4 separate regions of the Homo sapiens genome follow, and all the other regions are linked to region 3. Evidence: fine-mapped expression QTL. A gene starts in region 3. Each other region holds a variant in brackets. All regions are shown on one strand. Distances are between the middles of the regions. Region 1 holds the start of LOC105375799 (a long non-coding RNA gene). Region 2 has its middle 12 kb from the start of ZNF707. Region 3 holds the start of ZNF623 (zinc finger protein 623). Region 4 overlaps MAFA-AS1 (MAFA antisense RNA 1).

The links. PIP is the estimated chance that this variant, and not a neighbour inherited with it, causes the effect.
Region 1: its variant is the best candidate, but not a certain one, in a credible set for the expression of ZNF623 in anterior cingulate cortex (GTEx, PIP 0.67).
Region 2: its variant is the best candidate, but not a certain one, in a credible set for the expression of ZNF623 in putamen (GTEx, PIP 0.50).
Region 4: its variant is the best candidate, but not a certain one, in a credible set for the expression of ZNF623 in prefrontal cortex (GTEx, PIP 0.61).

What each region holds. Positions count from the first base shown.
Region 1 is chr8:143,662,306-143,668,378 of GRCh38, forward strand. LOC105375799 (a long non-coding RNA gene) reads left to right here and starts at 813. Exons shown (of 4, transcript XR_928737.3): 1 at 813-2,063; 2 at 3,612-3,734; 3 at 5,540-5,612; 4 at 5,914-6,073. The variant G/A (reference allele first, on the strand shown) is at 3,443.
Region 2 is chr8:143,669,096-143,675,168 of GRCh38, forward strand. No RefSeq gene overlaps it. Among named protein-coding and RNA genes, the nearest start is that of ZNF707, 12 kb to the right of the region's middle. RefSeq lists enhancers at 1-451, 452-952. The variant A/G (reference allele first, on the strand shown) is at 3,093.
Region 3 is chr8:143,632,475-143,638,547 of GRCh38, forward strand. It overlaps ZNF623 (zinc finger protein 623), which reads left to right and starts at 3,545. Exons shown (of 2, transcript NM_001261843.2): 1 at 3,545-3,671. It overlaps LOC105375798 (a long non-coding RNA gene), which reads right to left and starts at 1,430. Exons shown (of 3, transcript NR_188083.1): 1 at 976-1,430.
Region 4 is chr8:143,417,617-143,423,689 of GRCh38, forward strand. It overlaps MAFA-AS1 (MAFA antisense RNA 1), which reads left to right. Exons shown (of 3, transcript NR_186795.1): 2 at 125-303; 3 at 1,359-1,534. Among named protein-coding and RNA genes, the nearest start is that of MAFA, 10 kb to the right of the region's middle. RefSeq lists an enhancer at 4,877-5,464. The variant G/GAGCAGGGGAGAACTC (reference allele first, on the strand shown) is at 2,690.

The DNA of each region.
Region 1 (6,073 bases), 30 kb after region 3:
CTTCGGGGCACTGTGGCCCTGTTTGCTGGTGCCTTCCTGCTCCTTCTTCACTTGCCTTCGGGGCACTGTGGCCCTGTTTGCTGGTGCCTTCCTGCCCCTTCGCTCGCCTTCGGGGCACTGTGGCCCTGTTTGCTGGTGCCTTCCTGCCCCTTCGCTCGCCTTCGGGGCACTGTGGCCCTGTTTGCTGGTGCCTTCCTGCCCCTTCGCTCGCTGTGCTGCAATGTGGGCATGTTCTGTGGGTTTGTCTTCAAGTCCATTGACCTTTTCTTTTGCCTTTGAGGTCTTTTTTGTTTGTTTATTTTGTTTTGTTTTTATTTCTAAAAGGTCACCTTAGGTTCAGAAGCCTTTGTGGTCTCATGTTCATTCCACCATTGAACTTTTCATTTCAGATGTAGGTTTTTCAGCTGTAGAAGTTCTACTGGATTCTTCTTTATACCTTTCATTCCTTTCCTCATTACCACGTTTTCCTTTAAACCTGTGAAATTACTCATTTGGCTTTTTAAAAGTTCTTATCTGCTAATTCCACCATCTTTATCATGTCTGGATGTTCTTCAGGGTTTTGTTTTGTTTTGTTTGAGATGGAGTCTCACTCTGTCACCCAGGCTGGAGTGCAGTGGCGCGATCTCAGCTCACTGCAACCTCTGCCTCTCAGGTTCAAGCGATTCTCCTGCCTCAGCCTCCCGAGTAGCTGGGACTACAAATGCACGCCACCACGCCCGGCTAATTTTTGTATTTTTAGTAGAGATGGGGTTTTGTCATGTTGACCAGGCTGGCCTCAAATTCCTGACCTCAAGTGATCTGCACACCCAGCCTCCCGAAGTGCTGGGATGACAGGCATGAGCCACCACACCCGGCCTGGATGTTCTCCAGCTGATGGATGTTTCTCTTGGCTATGGGTGACATTTTCACCTCTGTGTGTTTAGTAATTTTTTTGATAGATATTGTGAATGTTACATTGTTGAGGGTCTGAAATTTGTCTTCCTTTCAAAATTATTGAATTTTTTTGCAGGCAGCTTAATGACTGTAGATCAGCTTAGTCCTTTGAGGCTTGTTTCTGAGCTTGGCTGAGGCTGGTCTACAGCGGCCTTTACTCCAGGTTAGCCGTGCTCCTGGTAGGGCTGGACCCTTCGCAGTTCTCACTGAGTGCCGCCACTGGGCAGCAAGGCCCACCACTCTGGCTCATCACACTTTGAGCACCTCCCAGGCCTGCAAGCTATTTGGGGATTGTCTGCTGTCAGCTCCCCGTGGCTTGTGGCCTGGCCCCATGGTGTGTGCAGCTTAACGTTCATCCAAACACTCATGGCAGCACTGGGGACTTCCTCTTCATGGGTCCCAGTTTCTTTCTCGTACTGGACCCCATAAATGCGAGCCTTCTGTACCTCCCCAGAGTCCAACCTCTGCCTCCTCAACTTAGTGAGTTGATACCATGCCTGTGTTTCCCCTTCATATGCTGTATTCTAGAAAATGCCACCAGGCAGAGAGCTGGCATCATGGGAGGTGCCCCCCCCATCTCCATCCTCCTGGGCAGGTCACAGCACTGCACCCTCCAACATCTAACAGCAGCTGTTGCATGGATTTTGTCCAGCTTTCTAGTTTAGGGCAGGAGGGCAAGTCCAATACTTGTTAATCATGGCTGGAAGGGGAGGTCACTGTACCATTTTTTATGTAACCGGTAAATATAAATTGGTAAGGAGTTGACAATCCTATTAATTTGGAGTCAGCTACCTGGTGGCTATCAGTCTCATTCTCTCTCCTGCCCACCTTTCCTGCCTGTGTTCCTGGCGTTCTTTTTGAAAGCAGGCTGCAAGCAGTCACATCGTCACCCTGGGGCATTTCCCTGTGCTTTGTGCTGCCTGGAAGAGCTCATAGCCAAGGAAGGGTGAAGACGGCGCGCTGCGGTGTGCGGCTTCTAGGCTGTGGAGCTCTAGTGTTGCCTTTTGGGTTCAGGGACCCACTGGGCCACTGTGAGGTGGGCTGGAGCTGCATTTCACCGACTGCCTTGCTGCAGGAGCCCTGCTCTGACTGGAGGGCCACAGAGCACACCGGGCCCCCCCGTAAGCCAGGTACGAGACTACCCGTCTCCTGCAGCAGGGCTCGGGGACCTCCCCATGGAGCCACAGGCATGGGCTTGGGGAGAGGCCCAGTGGAGAATAGAGGGTGGCACGGGGACCTGGGCCATCCTTGTGCCTTCTGGACCTGCCCAAGCCCAATCTTGGACTCCACTTCCATCTCCCAGTAAACTCCTGACGGCCCCTTGGATGTGCGACTGGTAGCTCCGACAGCACCCAGTCACGATGGGCAGCGCCAGTCTCATAAACACCGTGGCCTCCACGGTCAGGGCCCGAACACTTGCCCGCACCACCTACCAGCTGGTGGAGTCCCCTGAACATGACGGGGCCCTGCGCCGGTGGCCTTGGGCCTGGGCTGCACATCCTGCACTGAGGCTCGTCATGGGCGCCACTCGTGTCTTTGCCACACATGTGAAGCCTGTGGGAACTTCACGGCCACATGACCCACGTGGCAGGACTGCCTGTCACCCAGCCTGGGCCTGCCTCAGCCCCTTCCCTTGCTCCAGACCCCACTCAGAGCCGACGGCTTTCCCTCTCCCCCGCCAAGGGCAGAACATATTGCCTTCAAGCCCAAAGAGGCATCGGGCCTGCCCCAGCACCCTACAGGCCACCGCACCCTGAGAACATTGCTCATGGGGCAGGTCTCTGAAGTGTACGGAGTCTGCCTCCTGCCCTCCACAGCGCCCGTGTTTTTCTGAGGCCATCAGCGCACCTGCTATCTCTGCATGAGTCCAGTGCCCATTAAGGCATCCACTGAATGGGCCAACCTTTGCTCGTGGACCATCCAGTGGGTCAGGCCTTTGGGCCATGTTGGGACGAGGCACCCCACTCGGTTCTGGAGCGACCGTACCTGTGTGCCGCTGTTGGCCCCGCGTGGGCAGGAACTGCTCCGATTCCCCTTCCAAACAGGTTTCGGAAATGATGTGTTTATCAGACCAGTAGCCAAAAACCACATGCACGTGGCCACATCAGTCTCTTCTGGAAAGACCATGTGGATGGCCACAAGCGTGCCTCAGCTACTACTGTTTAAGCCTGTGGTAGTCCACTGCTGTCCACCACGGTCATGCAGCTTCCGCAGGGGTTGGGTTTCCAGATTGTAAGGCGGGTGGGGACAGGCAGATGGGGACAAGGGGGACAAGAACAAGAGGGACAGGGACAAGGGAGTGTATGGGGACAAGGGGAATGGGGATGAGGGGGATGGAACAAGGCGGGTGGGGACAAGAGGGACAGGGATAAGGGGGATGGGGACAAGGAGGGCAGGGTAAAGGGGGATGTGAATTAAGGGGACAGGAACAAGGTGGATAAGGGGACGGGGACAAGAAGGATGAGGACAAGGGGGATGGGGATGAGAGGGATGGGGATAAGGTGGGCGG[G/A]GATGAGGGGGACAGAAACAAGGGGGATGGGGATGAGGTGGGTGGGGACAAGGGACAGGAAGAAGGTGGGTGGGGACGAGGGGCACAGGGACTAGGGGCACTGGGACGAGGAGCCTGGGGACGAGGGGGATGGGAGCAAGGCGAGTGCGGATCTTTTACGTCTTCACAGGTGGCCTTAACGCCTGCCATTCTCCACAGAGGGTAGAGTTGCAGGAGCTTCCACTTTGATTTTCCCACTACAAGACTCACTCTGTTGATCAAGGAACCAGTTGAGGTTTTGCCCAGTTGCCAGGTGTGTCCAAAGTGATTTTGTTCCTTTCACAGGACATTCTGCCTCCCTGACAGCGCGGGGGATGCTTCCATGGCCTCCACAAGTTATAAAATACTCCAACACCAGTAGTATGTTAGTTACACCAGGGTGCCATTAAAAATACTGCAGAGTAGGTTACTTAACAACAGAAATTAATTATTCTCTCACAGTTCCGGAAGCCAGAAGAGACTAAAGTGTCCCAGGTTGGGTTTTGCCGGAGGCTCCTCTCCTTGGCTTGCCGATGGCCGCCTTCTTGCTGTGTCCTTGTGTGGCCTCCCTCCCTCCTCCGTGTGCACACACATCCCATGCTGTATCCCTGCGTGGCCTCCCTCCCTCCGTGTGCACACACATCCCATCCTGTGTCCCTGCGTGCCCCTCCCTCCTCTGTGTGCACACACATCCCATGCTGTGTCCATGCGTGGCCTCCCTCTCTCCGTGTGCACACACATCCCATCCTGTGTCCCTGCGTGCCCCTCCCTCCTCTGTGTGCACACACATCCCATCCTGTGTCCCTGCGTGCCCCTCCCTCCTCCGTGTGCACACACATCCCATGCTGTATCCCTGCGTGCCCCTCCCTCCTCTGTGTGCACACACATCCCATCCTGTGTCCCCGCGTGGCCTCCCTCCTCTGTGTGCACACACATCCCATGCTGTGTCCATGCGTGGCCTCCCTCCCTCCGTGTGCACACACATCCCATCCTGTGTCCCTGCGTGCCCCTCCCTCCTCTGTGTGCACACACATCCCATGCTGTGTCCATGCGTGGCCTCCCTCCCTCCGTGTGCACACACATCCCATCCTGTGTCCCCGTGAGGCCTTCCTTCCCTCCATGTGCACACATATCCCATCCTGTGTCCCTACGTGGCCCTCCCTCCTCCGTGTGCATGTACATCCCACGCTGTGTCCATGCGTGGCCCTCCCTCCTTCCTCCATGTGCACATACATCCCATGCTGTGTCCCCTCGAGGCCCTACCTCCCTCCATGTGCACACACATCCCATGCTGTGTCCCCGCAAGGCCCTCCCTCCCTCTGTGCAAACACACATCCCATGTCTCTCTGTGCATCCAAATTTCCTCCTCTTAGAAGGACCCTAGTCAGATCAGGTTAGGGCCCACCCAAAGGCCCCATTTTAACTTTACTACCTCTTTAGAGGCCCTATCTCCAAATCCAATCACATTCTCAGGTACCGGGCATTAGGTTCAGCATTTCAATTTGGGGGGAAACAAATCAACCCATAACAGGTGGATTTCCCAAAGCCTGCATTATTCAATTGTAATCAAACACACATTATTATGTATTTTCCCTGTAAAATAAGAGACAAGATCCAGGCTTGGTGGCTCAGGTCTATAATCCTGGCACTTTGGAAGGCTGAGGCAGGCAGATGCCCAGGAGTTTGACACCAGCCTGGCCAACATGGCAAAATCTCGTGTCCACAAAAAATACAAAAATTAGCCAGACGTGGCGGCATGCACCTGTTGTCTCAGCTACTCAAGCAGCTGAGGTGGGAGGATTTCTTGAGCCCAGGAGGATGAGGTTGCAGTGAGCCAAGATCGCACCACTGCTCTCCAGCCTGAATGACAGAGTGAGACCCTGTCAAAAAAAAAAAAAAGGCAAGGTTTTCTTCCAAGTGGGAAGAAAGATGGTGGATAGGATTTTTACGGAGTGTTGAAAGAGCTACTTGGAGAATCAGAAAGAAGATTAGTTGTTGGGAGGCACAGAGTGAGTACTGAGAAAACCAAGGGCCCAACTGAGGCTTGAAACTGCCAATTCTCCATTTACTGTCTTTCAGCTTCAAATACATACTTCATCGCCTGCTTGGTGAAAATGGAGCTGGGCCCTAAATTGTTTCTCCTTTAAAGCAGGTATGACGTTAAGCTTTGTAAGTAGAGGGCACTGGAGGGACCCTGCAGGAGGAAAGTGCTTCTCTTCCTGTTCTGCACTTTCTTCTGTTTTCTTCTTGTTCCTGCCATGTGGCTGCCAGCACACTCAGTGTTGCTCACCCCCAGCCAACTTCACTTGCAATGCCATGGGTGGATCCCCGTGAGTCTTGCAGATGCTCCACTGGTCAGCATCCAGCCTCAGCCTGCCCCAGAGAGGTGTTTCCTGCTTGCCAGTCCTGGCCAGGCTCCCTACCTGCCACCTTCAACCCCTCTACACCTGCAGGAGTGATTGCCCATTGACTGTGGACCAGCTCTGGCTACGGGAAAACCAGAGAACCTCTCCATCATCCATACTGCACCAAACAGCATCTCTGCAACCACACCTTTTCCAAGATTTGAGCCCCAGCCTTGGGGAGGAGGCCATCTTTCACATTTTCTCCTTC
Region 2 (6,073 bases), 37 kb after region 3:
TGGGAGGCAGAGGTTGCAGTGGGCCAAGACTGTGTTACTGCACTCCAGCCTGGGCAACAAGAACAAAACTCCATCTCAAAATACAAACAAAAAAAAACTTCCACTGGCTTTTTTTTGAGTGCTCACAAATTTGCCTTCTCAGCAAGGCAAATTTACTTCTGCAGAAGAGTGCCGCTCTCTCTTCTGGCCACTGGGAGAGCACACCGAACAAAGCAGGGCAGGGGTGTTTATCCCTAAAGCAGTCACGCCCTGCTACTGTGTCCAGTCCCCATTGGCTGGAGTCGCACCACACCATCTAAGCCGATCCCCATTGGCTACTTCAAATGGATCAGGGGCGGCTACAGTGGCCAAATAAGGAACAGATGTGGGTTTTACAGGTTGGGCTGCAGATTGGGAACAGATGTGGGTTTTACAGGTTGGGCTGCAGATTGGGAACAGATGTGGGTTTTACAGGTTGGGCTGCAGATTGGGAACAGATGTGGGTTTTACAGATTGGGCTGCAGATTGGGAACAGATGTGGGTTACAGATTGGGTTATAGATTGGGAGTGGCTGGAAGGTTGTTTGCTGTAAAGTGGAACCTTTGAAGAGGAACTCACTGTATCTAACAAATGTAAATCCAATTATGTCGAGTCTACTTCAAAACTTCCTGCCAGGTGTGGTGGCTCACACCTGTAATCCCAGGAAGTGGGCACGTTTTCCATGGCCAGAGCAGGAGGAGGAGAGGAGTGGGGAGGTGCCACATACTTTTTTTTTTTTAATTCTCCAATTTAAAACTTTTAGTTAAAAAGTAAACTTTAATGTTGAAAATGCAAACTTGGGGCAGGTAGAAAGATTACACACAAGGCTATCACTTCACATTTGGAGGGTTGCACAGCAGCCGGGCAAAGGCGCTCCTCACTTCCTAGACAGTCGGGGGACCCGGGCAGAGACGCTCCTCACTTCCCAGACAGTGGGGGTACCCGGGCAGAGGTGCCCCTCACTTCCCAGACGATGCCGAGGCTGGGGTGCCACATACTTTTAACAGACCAGATCTCAAGAGAACTCACTATCACCAGAAGGGCACCAAGTGGGAAATCCGCCCACATGATCCAATCACCTCCCACCAGACCCCACCTCCAGCATTGAGGATGACAGTTGACATGGGATTTGGGTGGGGACACAGACCCAAACCATATCACTCCTGAAGAGCTAGGACTACAGGAATGCTATACCTGGCTAATTGTTTTTCTTTTTTTCGTTTGTTTGTGTTTTTTTTTTTTTAGATGGAGTCTCACTCTGTTGCCAAGGCTGGAGTGCAGTGGTGTGATCTCAGCTGACTGCAACCTCCCAGGCTGGAATGCAGTGGTACAATCTTTGCTTACTGCAACCTCTGCCTCCCGTGTTCAAGAGATTCTCCTGTCTCAGTTTCCCGAGTAGCTGGGACTACAGGCGCCTGCCACCACGCCCAGCTAATTTTTTATTTTTAGTAGAGACAGGGTTTCACCATATTGGCCAGGCTGGTCTTGAACTCCTGTCCTCAGGTGATCCACCTGCCTCAGCCTCCCAAAGCGCTGGGATTACAGGAGTGAGCCACTGCGCCTGGCCACACCTGGCTAATTTTAAAAAAATTTCTTGTAGAAATGAAGTCTCACTATGTTGACCAGGCAAGTGTCAAACTAACTCCTGGCTTCAAATGATCCTCCTGCCTCAGTCTCCTAAAGCACTAGTATTAAAGCTGTGAGCCATCATGGTTAGCCTGTTTTTATATCTGGGAACTGTTGCTGTACAAAAATCAAATATGGGGTTGGAGTGGTTCACATCTATAATCCCAGCACTTCAGAAGGCTGAGGTGGGATGATTGCTTGAGTCTAGGAGTTTGATACCAGCCTGGACAACAGGAAGTCTAGGCTGCAGTGAGCTGTGTCGGGCTGCTGCACCCCAGCCTGGGCAACAGAGCAAGCCCTTGCCTCAAAAAAAGAAATCAAATATGAAGACTAAGAGTTTTAGGATTTGGTGTTAAGAGGTTTTGTTTTGCGTTGTTTTGAATTTTTGTGGGCACATAGTAGGCGTACGTATTTATGGGGTACATGTTTTTGTTTCTTTTTTTTTTTTTTTTGAGACAGAGTCTCACTCTGTCACCCAGGCCGGAGTGCAGTGGCGTGATTTCAGTCCACTGCAAGCTCCGCCTCTCAGGTTCAAGTGATTCTCCTGCCTCAGCCCCCGAGTAGCTGGGACTACAGACGAGCACCGCCACACTTGGCTAATTTTTGCATTTTTAGTACAGACGGGGTTTCATCATGTTGGCCAGGCTGGTCTCGAACTCCGGGCCTCAAGTGATCCACCTGCCTCAGCCTCCCATGGGGTATACGTTTTGATACAGGCGTGCAAAGTGTAATAGTCACATCATGGATAGTGGGGTATCCATCCCCTCAAGCATTTATCCTTTGCGTTACAAACAATCCGATTATACTCTGTTACTTTAAAATGTACAATTAAATTATTATTGAATATAGTCACCCTGTTGTGCTATCAAATACTAGGTCTTATTCTTTCTAATTTTTTTGTACCCATTAGTTAAGGGTTTTTTTTTTTTTGAGACAGAGTTTCACTCTTGTCACTCAGGCTGGAGTGCAGTGGTGAGATCTCGGCTCACTGCAACCTCTGCCTCCTGGGTTGAAGCGATTCTCCTGCCTCAGCCTCCTGAGTAGCTGTGATTACAGGTGCACGCCACCATGCCCGACGAATTTTTGTATTTTTAGTAGAGACAGGATTTCACCATGTTGGCCAGGGTGGTCTTGAACTCCTGACCTCAGGTGATCCACCCACCTCGGCCTCCTGAACTGCTGGGATTATGAGACTTACGGTTTACCAAAGGGGTGCGATGGGCCTTCTGTGTGGTGTCCGCATCCTCTCCTAGCTGGTTTCGGGAGAGTGCCGGCCCTCTGGGGCCTCTCTCCCTGGCTCGCCCTTTAGAAGGGGTTCACATAGTTAGAACCTTAGCAGTAAAGGTAACCTGTGCCTTGCGCAGGGCGGGGGACCTGGTGGGGACCCCAGAGGCAATGGTGTCAGCCCCGGTTATGGACTGGCGTCACTTGCGGCAGCCAGGTCCCAC[A/G]TGCACCCACCCTAATTTAATTAGACCAGGCAGCTAGGCAGGAACACGTTTATTTATTTTTAATTAAGCTTTTTGTGATAATTTTAGATTTGCATGCAGCTGTAAGGTGTTTTACAGAGAGATGCTGGGCACCCTTTACCTCCCTCAGTGGTAGCACCTGGAACCCTGCAGTGCACACAGCTGGGGTATTGATGTTCACAGAGTCAGGATATGGTCCTCACCCTTCCACAGCCACACCCACTCCCTCCCTCCAACCCTCCTTCAGGGCTGGCAACCATTCATCTGTTCTGTCCATTTCTGTAATTCTTTTTTCTTTTCTTGTCCTTTCCTTTTCTTTTCTTTTTTTCTCCTTCCTTCCTCCCTTCCTTCCTTCCTTCCCTCCCCTCTCTCTTTCTCTCTTTCTTTCTTTTTCTTTTCTTTCTTTTTTTTTGACAGTCTTGTTCTGTTGCCCAGGCTGGAGTGCAGTGGCGCGATCTTAGCTCACTGCAACCTCCACCTTTCAGGTTCAAGAGATTTTCCCAAGCCTCCCAAGTAGCTGGGATTACAGGCATGCACCATGCCTGGCTAATTTTTGTATTCTTAGTAGAGACGAGGTTTCACCATGTTGGCCAGGCTGGTCTGGAACTCCTGACCTCAGGTGATCCGCCTACCTCGCTTAGCCTCCCAAAGTGCTGGGATTACAGGCATGAGCCACAGTGCCTGGCCCATTTCTGTAATTCCATCTTTTCAAGAATGTCCTGTGAATGGAATCATATACAGTATATATGGAATTGTTCTATTGAGGCCCAGTGTCACCAGTACCCATGGATATACAATCTCCTGGTGGGGCCAGGGTGCACCATGGCTCATGCCTGTAATCCCAGCACTTGGGGAGGCCAAGGTTGGAGGATTGCTTGAGGTCAGGAATTTCAGATCAGCCTGGGCACCATATTGAGACCTGTCTCTACAAAAAATTTTGAAAAGTTAGCCAGGTGTGGTGATGCACTCCTGCAGGCCCAGCTACGTGGTGGGCTCAGGCGGGAGGATGGCTTCAGCCCACGAGGTAGAGGTTACAGTGGCTGTTGCTGGGAAAGTGTGATACATGCAAGAGAATGAAGTTGGACCCTCGTCAGTACCACATACAAAAATTAACTAGAAATGGATCATGCTGGGCACCGTGGCTTGCACCGCTTGTACCTGTAATCCCAGCACTTTGGGAGGCTGAGGAGAGTGGATCACCTGAGGTCGGGAGTTCGAGACCAGCCTGGCCAACATGGTGAAACCCTGTCTCTACTAAAAATACAAAAAAAAATTAGCCAGGTGTGGTGGTGCACACCTGAAATCCCAGCTACTTGGGAGACCGAGGTGGGAGAATCCCTTAAACCCGGGAGGCAGAGGTTGCAGTGAGCCGAGATCACGCCACTGCACTCCAGCCTGGGCAACAGAGCAAGACTGTCTCAAAAAAATAAGTAAATAAAGTAAAATAAAAAGTAAAAATGGATCAAAGATCTGGATGCAAGACCTGAAACAGTAAACTCTTGTTAGAAACTGGGAGCAGAAGCTTTTGACACACACTGGGTTTGGCAATGATTCCTTGGACACCAAAGGTACAGGCAACAACAACAAACAGCCAAATGGCTTCGTGAAAATTAAAGCCTTTTGTTCATCAAAGGACACTCCTAAAAGAGTGAAAAGCTGCCCCTTCCCCACAGAACGGGAGAATATCTGCAAATCACGTGTCCGATGAGGGACTCATATCCAAAATATCGAAGGAACTCCTTGTGGAGGCCAAAGCCGCTCCAGCCTGGATGGTGACTATTGTGTGGGCTTTCGACTAACCCGTCCAGGGAAGGCCTCCGACGTTTCCAGGTGATCTGTTGTTCCTTGTGTAAGGGCAGGCACTTGCTATAAACCCTGCCGCAGGGTCAGACGGCCCTGATGCCGCCCATTGTCCTGCACTTCCCTCCCAACCCTCCCCGTGGTACACAAGCCCTGGGCGGGGGCAATGGTGGGATCCAGTATCTCCTCTTGCCGCTGCCAAGACAGACATGGCTTCTTTTTCTAAGTCCCTGTTAAGTGTTTCTTTCTAAGAAACTGGGTTTGTTAGCCTTTTTCTTTGACCTCTCAGCTTCCTCGGACTTTGGAGACAGGTTTACATAGACCTACTTACCATGGAACACTCCAGAAAACGACTCCCCAAAAACAACCTGATTCAAAAATAGGCAAAGGACTAATTAGACCTCTCTCCCAAGAATGGCCCAATAGGCTGGGCGTGGTAGCTCACACCTCTAATCCTAGCACTTTGGGAGGCCAAGGTGGGCGGATCACCTGAGGTTGGGAGTTCGAGACCAGCCTGACCAACATGGATAAACCCTTGTCTCTACTAAAAATACGAAATTAGCGGGGCGTGGTGGTGGGTGCCTGTAATCCCAGCTACTCGGGAGGCTGAGGCAGGAGAATTGCTTGAACCCAGGAGGTGGAAGTTGTAGTGAGCTGAGATCACGCCACTGTACTCCAGCCTGGGCGACAAAGTGAGACTCCGTCTCAAAAAAAAAAAAAAAAAAGTAAAGAAAAGAATGGCCCAATAAGCACATGAGAGGATGTTCACACCACTCATTCTTAGAGAACTGCAAATCAAAGCCACAATGAGATACCACCTCACACCCATTAGGATGGCAAACAATTAAAATAACAAAACAAACACAAAACAGAAACAACTTAAAACAGAAAAATAACAGGTATTGGCAAGGCTGTGGAGAAGCTAGAACCCTGTGTGCTGCTGTTTGGAATGTAAAATAGTACATAGTACACCTCCTAAGGAGAGCAGCATGGCGGGTCCTCGGCGTGTGGTGCCTGGAGTGACGTCGGGTCCTCGGCGTGTGGTGCCTGGAGTGACCGGCGGGTCCTCGGCGTGTGGTGCCTGGAGTGACCTTGTGACCTGGCCATTCCACTTCTGGGCATATTCCCAGAGCTGTGAAAGCAGGCACTCACGCAGACGTTTG
Region 3 (6,073 bases):
ATTTTAAAAATCTTTTAATTTTTTGGCCTCACTTAGCAGCAAGGTCTCAAACTTACATCCCAAAGTGACCTTCTGTTCTTCTTTCACCTTTCTCCCACCTGCCCCACCCTGCGTCACCATGGATGTCAGCTTCCTGCCCACTCCCCACCCTCCTGTGAACCCTCCCTCGGCCTTCAGAGCCAGTCCCTGCCTCTTCCTGGCTCGGTCCAGTCTCACCCCAGGTGCTCTGCTGTGTGGCTGCCATTGCCACCGTCCTCACCCTGTCCTCTGTGGTCACCACGCAGCCAACGTGTCTTTCCAGTGTCATCTGGCTTTTGTTACACTCCTGCTCAGAAGCCAGTGTGGGCTTCCTGTGTGGCTTGGACCGGGACCACACAATCTGCCCCACCCAGTAGTTATCTCGGAAAGACTAATTCCCAAGCTGTCTTCAGCCCTCCATTGTCATCAACTTGTCCCCAGACTCCATTCGCCCAAAGCAGGAAAGCTCTGCTCATGGCCCGAAGACACAGTGGCCTTCCTCAGGGACATTTCCCAGACAGTTTTGTGCTTGCTCCCGTACCAAGACCACCCATGGCCTGTTTTCCTAAACCCCACATCCCAGATAGCTTGAAACTATGTTTTGGGATCTTTTATCAGAATTTCTGCTTTGTCTTCAGAATGGCTCCGTCCCCTCAAATCCCTATAAATTCCCTTTCTGGCTGAATGCAGTTTCTTTGGACAGCTTTCCTTTCTTGAGCTCTGGTTATGGCAACAGCGCCAGCCTCATCTTGCATGGCAGCCTCCCCTCGGGCCTTTTGCCTTCCAGCCACACTCCTTGGTTTTGGCATTGTACTTGCTCTAGGTCAAGGGCTTTGGAGGCAGATGGCTACATCTGAGGCCTCCTCCAGCATGTCCTGGCTGATACCTTAGGTGAGCCATTTGGTTTCCCTATTTCTGTTTCCTCATCTATAAAATGGAGATAATATTAGAAGTCACCTGGCAAGGCTGCTGTGGCTCGAGGGGGCTCCTAGGTGGGGAGCAGACTTTCACGGAGTGATGTTGGACCTGTGGAGGGGAAGACACAAGAGGCAGGAGTGGGGCTGTGATGCCATCAAGCACAGCGGCTACTGGTCCCCCACAGGGAGCTCTGCCACAGAAGTGGTCCTCAGGGCTGTCCTCGGTTGGACCAGGATGTCCAGGACTTTGCAATGTGGGCTGTCCCAGGGAAGGGTGTGACCCTGGCGAGTTGCAGCTGATGGCTGAAGGCCGCTTACCACACCCTGAACAACTGGGACACCCAGCCTGTCACTGGAGGGGTCTCCCGGGGCCTCTCATCGCAGCATCCACCACAGTTGCTGAGGTCCACATGGGCCAGGCACTGGGCTAGACATGGAACGAGACGGGGGTCCCTGACCTTACGGAGCTTCCTTTCTACTGGCAGGGACAATCAGTACCAAACAAGTAAACTCAAAGTATTAAGTGCCAGCCGGGCATGGTGGCTCAGGCCTGTAATCCCAGCACTTTGGAAGGCCGAGGCGGGTGGATCACGAGGTCAGGAGATCGAGAACATCCTGGCTAACATGGTGAAACCCTGTCTCCACTAAAAAACAAAAAATTAGCCGGGCGTGGTGGCGGGTGCCTGTAGTCCCAGCTACTCGGGAGGCTGAGGCAGGAGAATGGCATAAACCCGGGAGGCAGAGCTTGCAGTGAGCCGAGATCGCGCCACTGCACTCCAGCCTGGGTGACAGAGAGAGACTCTGTCTCAAAAAAAAAAAAAAAAAAAAAGTATTAAGTGCCAAGCTGCAGCCATGTGTTAGCTGTTGGTGGGGTTGAAGTGGCAGGCGTCAGGTGTACAAGGCAGATTTTGATCTGTGACAACCTGCTCAGGCGGTGTTCTCAAGCTCTTTGGGCCTGCGGACAGGGAGGCTGAAAGGTCTGTAAGCCCTGTGGGGAAGAGGCCTCAAGCCCTTCTCGCCTTAAGAGCTGGGTCCCATGGTAAGCTGGCAATAGGGTTGCAGCAGCCAAGGTCTCCGGGCCTGGATGAGAGGTGGGGTCGCTCAATGTAGGGCTTTCACACACACCCCTGGAACACAGAAGCCTTTCCAAGAGCCGGGGAGCCCCTGGAGAATCACAGCAGGAGTTCCACATGGATTCTGCCCTGGAATTCCTGTAGAAGGTCCTTGGATGAGGGCACGCGCCTAGCGTGTCCCCCTTGGCCACAGCTCCTTCTCCCACGTTGCTTCTCTTCCTTTATTCACCCTGGTACCTGGCCTTGGTACCTGGGCTGTCCTCCTCATCAAAGGGACAATTCAAAACTCTGCAGTTGATTTTAAGAAAGTAGGTGAATTTATTGGCTGGGAAAGACTTCATGTAGTTTTGCACTTTAGGTTACTTCTAATTCTTTGTTTGCTTCTGTCAAAATTTAAAAAGGACCTATTCAAGTGGTCAACTGACAGGTCATTAAGTACACTTGGTGATAAACTGCTGTTATGTTTTTTGCATATAAGTCAGAAAGAGCTAAAGAAATTGAGCGTCGGCTGGGAACAGCGGTTCACGCCTGTAATCCCAGCACTTTGGGAGGCCAAGGCGGGTGGATCACGAGGTCAGGAGATCAAGACCATCCTGGCCAACAAGGTGAAACTCTGTCTCTACTAAAAATACAAAAATTAGCTGTGCGTGGTGGCGCATGCCTGTAATCCCAGCTACTCCAGAGGCCGAGGCAGGAGAATCGCTTGAATCAGGGAGCCATAGGTTGCAGTGAGCAGAGATCACGCCACTGCATTCCAGCACTCCAGCCTGGTGACAGAGCGAGAGTCCATCTCAAAAAATAAAAATAAAAATAAATTGAGCGTCATTGCTAAAACAAAATTCCTCCCAATCCTATCTAACAATTTAGGTAAACAAGTTTCCTCAGTGCTAGCAGAAAAATGGAAAAAGAAAACCCAAAATACGAATATAATGTTTTTTTGGTGGGGGGGGGGGGCAGGGGAATGTAATTATTTCGATTATTTCGGACTGTGACTCATTCTAGCAATGAGTAATGTCTACCAAGAATCAATGAGCCGGCGCGGTGGCGCGCGCCTCTGGTCCCAGCACTTTGGGAGGCCGAGATGGGAGGACCACCTGAGCCCGGGAGGTCGGGGCTGCAGTGAGCCGAGATCGCGCCACTGCACTGCAGCCTGGGCGACAGAGCGAGACCCTGTCTTAAAAAAACCAAAACCCGAAAACCAAAAAACTCCACAGCGCGCCGCTTCCCCACTTCTCTGGGGCGCAGAGAGGTGAAGTTTGGCCCTCACGGTATTTACTTCCCCTGGATCCTCGCCTCCTGAGAAGCTGGTCTTGGGCTGCGGTCGGACCTCGCCGCGAGCTCCAGACCCGAGTTTCCGAGCCCGCGCTTCCCGGCCCGCAACCCTCCCAACCGCGTAGCAACGCCGCTCCTGCCGGACACCCCTGGCCCCTCCGGGGGTCTTAGTCCCCGGGCCCGGAAGTCCGCACCACTGAGAGGGGAGCCGATCCCTGGCGCTCCTAGAACGGCGCAGGAAGTTTCCCAGGCGGGGCCTCTCGCGACTTCCGGTCGCGGCGGGCTGGCGGCGGTGCAGGCTTTGTCGGCTGATCTGTGGGGCCCGCGCCGGCGGGGTCCAGTCAGCGGCTGCAGGGTCGGGCTCGCGCCGTCCTCTCCCCGCCCGCGCCGGGTGAGTGGCGCGTTCCGGACGGGGGCGGGCAACGCCTTAGCCGCAGCCCCGGCTGGCTCCGGAGCCCGGCCGCCTTGCCAGGGCACAGTCCGCCGAGAGGGCCGGGCGGGGTCCGCAGGCCGCTGCCCGCCCCGCTAGGGCGTCCAGGAGCGGGGCCTTGGCTAGTCAGTCTCCCGGACGCAGCCACGGCCGCCCCCGCGAGGCTGCGGCGTCTCTCCAGCGAGCCCGCCTCGGGCCCGAGCCTGGGGTCTTGTCCCTGAGGAGCGCCGTGTGGGTACCCCTGGTTCCCTCTCCTTCCCCCCGCCCTGAGCCCAGGCCGGAGAGCCGCGGGCTTGAGTGTCCGTGTCGCAGTCTTCAGGTCCGCCAGGCCTGCGTGAGGTTGATGCCGCAGACATGTTTTACGGTGTGGCAGGACTGGGTGTGGGCGTTCCCGCGGCTGTGCCTGAACCCTGCCTCCGCTCCCTGGGGCCTCGAGGCCTCTCGGTGCTGGAGGAGATGCAGCGCCAGCATCTTCTGTGCTGTTGGGGATAGGGGTGGGGAGGGAAACATGATGAGCAGAATTAGAATTAAGTACAAGACTTGGACCTGGAGAATTCCCAGATGGGGAGAGGTGGTGTGGCTACGCTGTCCTGCTTTTTCTTGAAGGTACCCTTTTCCCTTCGCGTCTTTAAGAATCCCAGTGGCGTTCTCTGTGCTTCTGTCAAGGCTGTCTTGCTCCCTTCACACACAGGCTACGTCATGGTCCAGGGACTCTCAGGGTCTGGGCAGCGCCTGGATGCTGGCCTCAGACTCATAGGTAGTTGGTGTGAAGCAGCTCAGGGAGCTGCCGAGCTTGTCTTCGCTGCCTCAGGGTCATGGAAGATGACCCAGGAGAGGACACAGGGGGCTCGTCGTTGTCCTTGGGCAGAGCCCTGAGCAGCATGCCGGTAGCAGAAGCCAAATGGCCTGGGTGGGGCGGGGGCAGTTGACAGCTGGCTCCAGTTCTCTGACCTTACGCTTCTTACCTCCCTGAACTTCCGGGGCATCGTGGGGAGCACTAGGAACAGAAGCGCTCCCTGCCTAGCCTGTGGCGCCCAGTAGGCCCCTTGGTGTGGCGCGGGGCAAGGAGGTCCAGATGTTAGTGGAGCTCTAGTCCACGTCTCACTCGGTTGCCCTCTGGTTCTGCTTTTCCTGTTTCCTGAGGGTGAAGCTTGGTGTATCCTGTTAATTTCTTCAGGCTGTAAGCAACACACAGTGACTCTGGCTGGGAGCTTGAGGCTGGAATTTCCCCTTACCAGTGTGGGTGCAAGAGCTGGGGGCTTCTAATGCCAGATGGGACACCCCTAGACACCCCAGAGCTGCTGTGGCTGCTGATGATACACAACATCTGCTGTTGAGACAATTTCAAGTGATATTTATTTATTTATTTATTTATTTATTTTTGAGACGGAGTCTTGCTCTGTCGCCCAGGCTGGAGTGCAGTGGCATGATCTCGGCTCACTGCACCCCCTGCCTCCCGGATTCAAGTGATTCTTCTGCCTTAGCCTCCTGAGTTGCTGGGACTACAGGCACACGGCACCACGTCCGGCTAATTTTTGTATTTTTAGTAGAGACGAGGTTTCACCATATTGGTCAGGCTGGTCTTGAACTCCTGACCTTGTGATCTGCCCACCTCGGCTTCCCAAACTGCTGGGATTACAGGCGTGAGCCACCGCGCCTGGCCTCAGGTGATGTTTTATCCAGCAAATTCTGTGTTACAACAGGAGATGGGTCCATGCTAGTCAGTTTGTTGTGTGGAGCCACAAGTCAGGTGGCTTCCTTTTTTTTGCATTTCATGTCAGTTTCTTTAAATGAAAATGTATTGATTTAATTTTACTTAAATTCATACAAGAAAAAGTTAAGCAAAAACTGAAGATAGCTATTTCCTTTTTGAGATAACTGTTTCTTCAAAGCAAGATATTTGCAATTTTAAAAACTTTCTCTAGAGGCGGGCAGATCATGAGGTCAAGAGTTCGAGACCAGCCTGACCAACATGGTGAAACCCCATCTCTACTAAAAGTACAAAAGTTAGCCAGGTGTGGTGGCACGCCCCTGTAATCCCAGCTAGTCAGGAGGCTGAGGCAGGAGAATCACTTGAACCTGGGAGGTGGAGGTTGCAGTGAGTGGAGACCATGCCATTGCACTCCAGCCTGGGCGACAGAGTGAGATTCCGTCTTAAAAAAAAAAAAAAAACTTTCTCAAAAGTTAAAAAAATTATGAAAATTATTAAGAGGCACACATATGGTTTTAAGATATGTTCTTGTAAACAGAAACACCCTGTTTCTGGCCGGCCGTGGTGGCTCACACTTGTAATCCAATCCCAGCACTTTGGGAGGCCGAGGTGGGTGGATCACCTGAGGTCAGGAGTTTGAGACCAGCCTGGG
Region 4 (6,073 bases), 210 kb before region 3:
GGGGCTGGACAGGGGTGCTGGGCAGGGGCTGGACAGGGGTGCTGGGCAGGGTCAGTCCATCTCCATCCTGCTTTCCTTTTCTTTCTTTTCAACAAATATTGATGGAGCACCTCCTCGGTGCCAGGCGCTGCTGCAGCCTCTAGGAAATCAACCGTGGAAACACACGGACCCTGCCCTCCCGGCGCCAGTGTTCTGGTGGTCAGGAGGTGAAGAAAACCAGCAAGAACCAGCACAGGAATCCGACGGTGGCAGCGCCGAGAGAAACAAGCTTGGAGGGGAAGGAGAGCTACAGAGGCTGCATGGGTGAGGCCAGCTTCTTGAAAATGGAGGTGTGAGATTTGAGGAGGGCTCTGGAGAGAAGAGGGAAGAGGGCCCAGGGGAGAGATGAGCAAAGGTTCGGTGGTACAAACTGAGCTCCCTCACTCCACGTTTGGAGTCATTCCACAGCTTCCTAAACCACCCACCCAGGCAACCCCATCCCCCTACCCACCCATCCACCCACCAACTCACCCCCAACCCCCCACCCACCCATCCTCCCACCCACCTGCCAACCCCCTACCCACCCACCCACTCATCCTCCCACCCTCCAACCCCCTACCCACACACTCACCCATCCTCCCACCCACCCTTCAGCCCCCTACCCCCCACCCACCCACTCATCCTCCCACACACCCTCCAACCCCCTACCCAGCCACCCACCCACTCATCCTCCCACCCTCCAACCCCCACCCACCCACCCACTCATCCACTGACTCTCTAACCCCCTACCCACCCATCCACTCACTCATCCACTCTTCCCCATACCCCCCCACCCACCCACTCATCTTCCCACTCACCCCCATACCCCCTACTCACCCACCCACTCACCAACTTACCCGCCCATCCATTCATTCACCCTCCTCCCACTCACCCACTCCCACCCATCCCCCATTCCCCCATGCCTCATCCTCCCATCCATCCATCTACCCACTCACCTACCCAACCACTCACCCATCTACCCACTCACCCACGCACCCTTCCATCCATCCACCCACCCATCATCCACCCACTCATCTGCCCATCTCCCCATTCCCCCACCATCCCATCCATCCATCCACCCATCCACCCATCCATCCACCCAACTGACCATCCACGTATCCACTCACCCACCTGTTCACCCATCTACACACCATTTATTCACCCACCATCAACCATCCATATATCCTTCCATCCAGCCACTATCCTCCCGTTCCTACCCATCCTGCTGTCTTCCTCATCTTTCTTGTCACACGTCCAGCTGTCTGTCCGTTCATCCACCCATCACCTCATATGCTCCTTTTGTTTTTACCTCTTTCACCTTTCTTCATCTTCAAATGCAGATGTGATGGTTGGAGTGGAAGCTGACATTGTGGGCCAGGAGACCCTGGGAGTACAGGCCAAGATGAAAAGAGCCTCAATCCAGAGCGTTCTGTGAAGCAGTCACCACGGCCACCCTGGGCCATCAGCTTCTGGACTTTTACAACATAGAAATTAAATTTCCATTGAATTTGTTGGAGTCATTGTTCCTTCAGCTCTCTGTTACCTGCACTTACATCTCTCTGTGAGTCGCGGAGTCTTGCAGTTAAGGTATTAATATTATTGCGTCTCAAGGTGCCTCAGGTCAGAGGTTCCAAAGGTGAATGAGGGCACAGCTCTCCGTCTGAGACTCACGGTGGAGAAGCCTCCTCACCTTGCTCCTTCTCCCTGTCACCAAGAAAGGAGGTCTGGGGGAAGGAAGGGGTCCGTGTGGCCCTCCCGCCCCCACACTGTCCCTCTTGGATTCTGCTAGCCTGTGGGTGTGGGCAGCAGCTCAGCCTGGCCCTGGAATTTTCCATAAAGGTCTTTCCAGGTAAGAATGATTAGACAACATATTTTGTATTCATTATTATATAGTGCGTTTTAAATGTTATTTACGTGTATGTGGGTGGGTAAGATTTAATGGCTAAAGAGTGCTAGACAGCGGGAGCCAGGAGTGTGTCTGGGCTTGTCACATGAATTCCTGCAGAAATAATTCTCTTTTGGAGAATGCTGAACGTCATACCTTCCTGATCGTAACCTCAACGTGGCCCTAAGCGCCCTGTCCAGGGCCCCAGAGTTTCTGAACTCAGCTTAAGTCAGCTCCCCAAATTCAGCAGAAAGTGGGAGGAGTTGGGGCTGTTCTGTCCCTAGTACACAGGTCTGGGCAGGGCTGGGTTTTACCTTCTGGGAAGGGCTGTGGAAGGGAGGGTGAGGGGACAGACCCAGCGGATGAGGGGTTTGAAAAGGAGGAGTGGGGACTGCAGTGATGGGCAGCGCACTGCGGCTGAGTAGGGGGAGGAAAGCCTTCTGGGAGCTGAGCTGGGCTGAGCTGGGGACCCCCCATGGATGGCAGCTCTGGGTGCCCCTCCCATGCCTGCTCCTTCCCTGCTCCCCTCCTGCCAGGAGCCAAGCTCTGTTCCCCCAGGCCCCTCTGCAAGCCCCACAGACGTGGCCAAGACATCTCCGGTCTTGGATTGGGGGCACCCCTGTAAATCCCGCCCCGGTGCACCTGGAGAGGCACATCCCACTCCACGCCCTCCCCTCGGAACAGAGCCCCCTCTTCCAAGAAGCCTTCTCAGATTGACGAAGGGCTTGCTGAACGGGTCCCTCTCTTTACTGCTCATGAGGCCCCTGTGTGGATGGCCGATGGGAG[G/GAGCAGGGGAGAACTC]AGCGTCTTCTTACAGATGAGGTGATTGAGCCCTGAGAGACGGCCCCCGCTCTACCTCCAGCTGGGGAAGGGCAGAGGTCAGGCCGACTCCAGTCCAGCCCCTCTGCCACCATGGCGGGGGTGGCCTGGTGACTGGGCCGGGGGGCTGGGGAGGTGCCCACCTGACCTAACCAAGGCCAGTGACGAGGTCCAAGGCCCCGTCTCCACCCACGCCCCACCGCCTGACCCGCCTCCAAGGCGATGGCAGCCCCCACCCTGCTCCAGAGAAGACGCGTGGACAAGGTGAGGAGGAGACCAGAGCCTTCCTCCCAGACTCGCAGAGCCACCCCCGCGCGAGCCCTCCGCACCACCCGCACCTCCTGAGCTCTCAGGTATGGTGGTGCCAGGGCGGTGCACCAAGCACCCTCAGATGTGCTGCGAGGCTGCCCTTCGGAGGCACCCGTGCCGGCCTCCTGCTCTTCCATAGGGCAGCGGGCCCAGGCAGGGCACAAGGCGGACAGAGTGTCCCGTCCCCCATGCGATACGCCCAGGACCCAGAGGGCAGAGACGGTGGGTGAGGAACCATCTCTGCAGGGAACCGCCAGCAGGAACAGAAGGGTGAGGGGCCGGGCCAGCGACCTCCCTGGACTGTGGCAGCTCCCGCCTGTGCCCCCACGATCCTCTCTACACAGAAGCAGGGGCCCCTGCTGCCCCCACAGTGGCCCCAGGATCTGTCCCCAGTTCCTCGCCGCCCTCCCTGCCCCCATTTCACGGCTGCTCCCCTGCAGCCGCTCCAGCCCCGACTTTATACACACAGGCCCAGCCACCTACGGGCAGGCGAGGCCTCCTGGAGGCCCGGCGGGCTCTTCCCCCTCCCTCCCCGCCCTTTTCCTCTCCCGATTTCCTGGCCACCCTCTGGCTTAGTCTGCAATTCATCTTCCCGTCTCTCTTCCCATACCTGAGCCTCGTGCCGCCCGGGATTGCGGCGCCCGCGCCACCACGCTGGGGTAATGGTCCCAGCACCGCTGCCCTGCGTCCTGCCGCGCCCCAGCCCGCGCGTCTCACACACCGCGACTGCGTGTCTACAGGTGCCGCCTCTTGACGCCTCTGCTGCACCGCCAGTGCCCCGCTCGGCAAAGCACAGCCCCTCCCCAGCACTGCAGCAAATGGGCAGGAGACCCCCGCCCGGCCGGGGGAGCAGGGGCAACGGCAGGGCCCCAGTAGAGAGGGTGGAGCTGGAGCCGAGGCCGGGCCAGGCGCCTGCGGGGCCTAACGCTTCTGAGACAGGCGAGCCGTGCTCCGTGCTCCGTGCTCCGGGACGAAGGGGGCTGTGGGGTCGGCAGAGGGCTTCCCGTGAGGAGGAGCACACCAGGAGTGCTGAGGCCGGGGGTGGGAGGCGGGCAGATCCCTCAGGAGGGTGGGCTGGAGGGCCGGGACAGCCATGGGCGGCTTCTGTGCGGAGGGGCAGCCTTGGGGTTGAAGAGAGGAGACCAGAGGCTGCAGGGAGAAGCTGGGGATGGGTGGGGTGGGCCCAGCCAGGGCCCCTGTGTTTGAAACTCCCTTGTCGCAGAGGAGCCGTGGGCTACGCCCCTCCCCCAGGGCATCAGCTCCCCTGGGGCATCTGTACCAAGAGCTGGGCAGAGGCGGCGGCTGGAGAGGGGCCACCCAGGGCATGTGGCTTCCCGGAGGACATGGCTTGTCCCTGAGACCCACCCCTCTGGGGGAGGTGACCAGACACCTGGGTCCCAGCCAGGAGACGGGAGCAAGGGTGCTGCAGGAGAAGGGACTCCGGGACCCTCCTTCCTAGAGAAGCCAGAGTCCCCTAGAGTCCCGCGGGGCCCCGCCAGCAGCCTGGGACTCTTCTGTGCCCAGCACCCTGCCTGCACGCTCACTGCTGCTCCCAGGCTGCTCCGGGGAGGCGATCAAGGCCCATGGGGCTGGCGCCTGGCATGTTCCAGATACCTCCCTGTGTCAGCCTCTGAGGACTGGGTGGGAGGGAGGCAAAGGGGCCATCCCCTGCGAGCTAGACCACGCTGAGTGGGTGCCGGGAGGTGCAGTGGAGTCGGGGAGGCCCCAGGGCGGAGCCCGCCACATGGGAGGGAGGGGCTGGGCCACAGACGCAAGTCAGGGGCCAAGGTGGCTCTGTCTGGGAAGGCGGTGGCCTGAATGTGGAGAGGAATTATCCTCCAGGCTGGAACTGATCCCAGCTGCCCTCAGGACACCTAACTCGGGTGCCAGGGGTCAAGGGCACTGGAGTCCCAGAGGCCGGCATGGAAGAGGTGGCAAGGCTCAGGGGAATGCCAGGGTTGAAAGGGGCAGCAAGGGCTGCGGCTGAGGGGCTTCAGGCCTGGTGGGCTGCTGTTGGGGGGCACCCCACCTTGCTGCTCTCCACAGCCAGGTTGGGGTGCCTGGGGGGGCGGGCCGGACCTGAAGGCCACAGGCCTCCTCCTGCGCCTACCCCTCCTGCAACCCCCACAGCCTCCCCCGCCGACCCCTTCATGCCCCCCCGCCCCCCTGCCCGGCGCTCCTCCCCGGCCGCGGGCTAATTGGCTGTGACAGCTGGAGCCCTGGGCAGCTGAGCGGTGTCACTGCAAATTAGGCAGGCGCTGAGCCCGCCAGCCGCAAATTCCTCTGTCACTGCTCCCCATGCGGACTGCCGACTGTGTGTGGGGGTCGAGGGTGTGGGCTCCAAGCCACTCCCACCTTCCTGCCACCTCCTGATTCGGGGTACACTCCCTTCCCCCATCCCCCACCTCCTCCGCCTCCCAGGTGAGGAAGCGGTTTCCCCTCCTCCTGGGCCAGCCTCCCGCCTCAGACCCTCTCCCAGGCCCTGCCTCCTCCCCCACAACTTCCGAGTCCTCTGAGCACCGGTCCCACTTCCCGGGCCCTGGCTGGCCCTGCCCCGCCAGTCTCCCCTGCCACCCCAGACTCCCTAATTCAGGGTCCCTCGGCCGCCACCCTCTCCCTGGGAGCCCGGGGATCCAAATGCCTCCTCTCAGGGACCCTGGAGGGTACTCCTGTCTGAGCTGCCTGCCCCCACCTCGAGACCCCCTAGGAGCCAGGCTCAGCCAAGACCCCGCAGGCCTCCACCCTCCCCGGCTCAGCCCACAGCCTCGGGCTCTCCCTGCTGACCCACATGCTGCACCCCCAAAGTCCACCCCGTGCTGCCCCTCCCCGTGCACCCTCAGGGATTACACCATCAAGGTCGAACACAGAACCTGCATCCACCTCACGCCCCGACTTTCCACGCGCCTCCCAGCTCCTATCAGGAAAGGTCTCCCCCAGGTCCGTCCCATCCACGCTCTCCGGGACCATCTGGGCCCTCGCCCTGGTCTCAGCCTTTGCTGCCCCCGACAACCTGCCAGGACCCTCAGCCTTAGGGAGGTGGGCCCCTGTGAGGGTGGG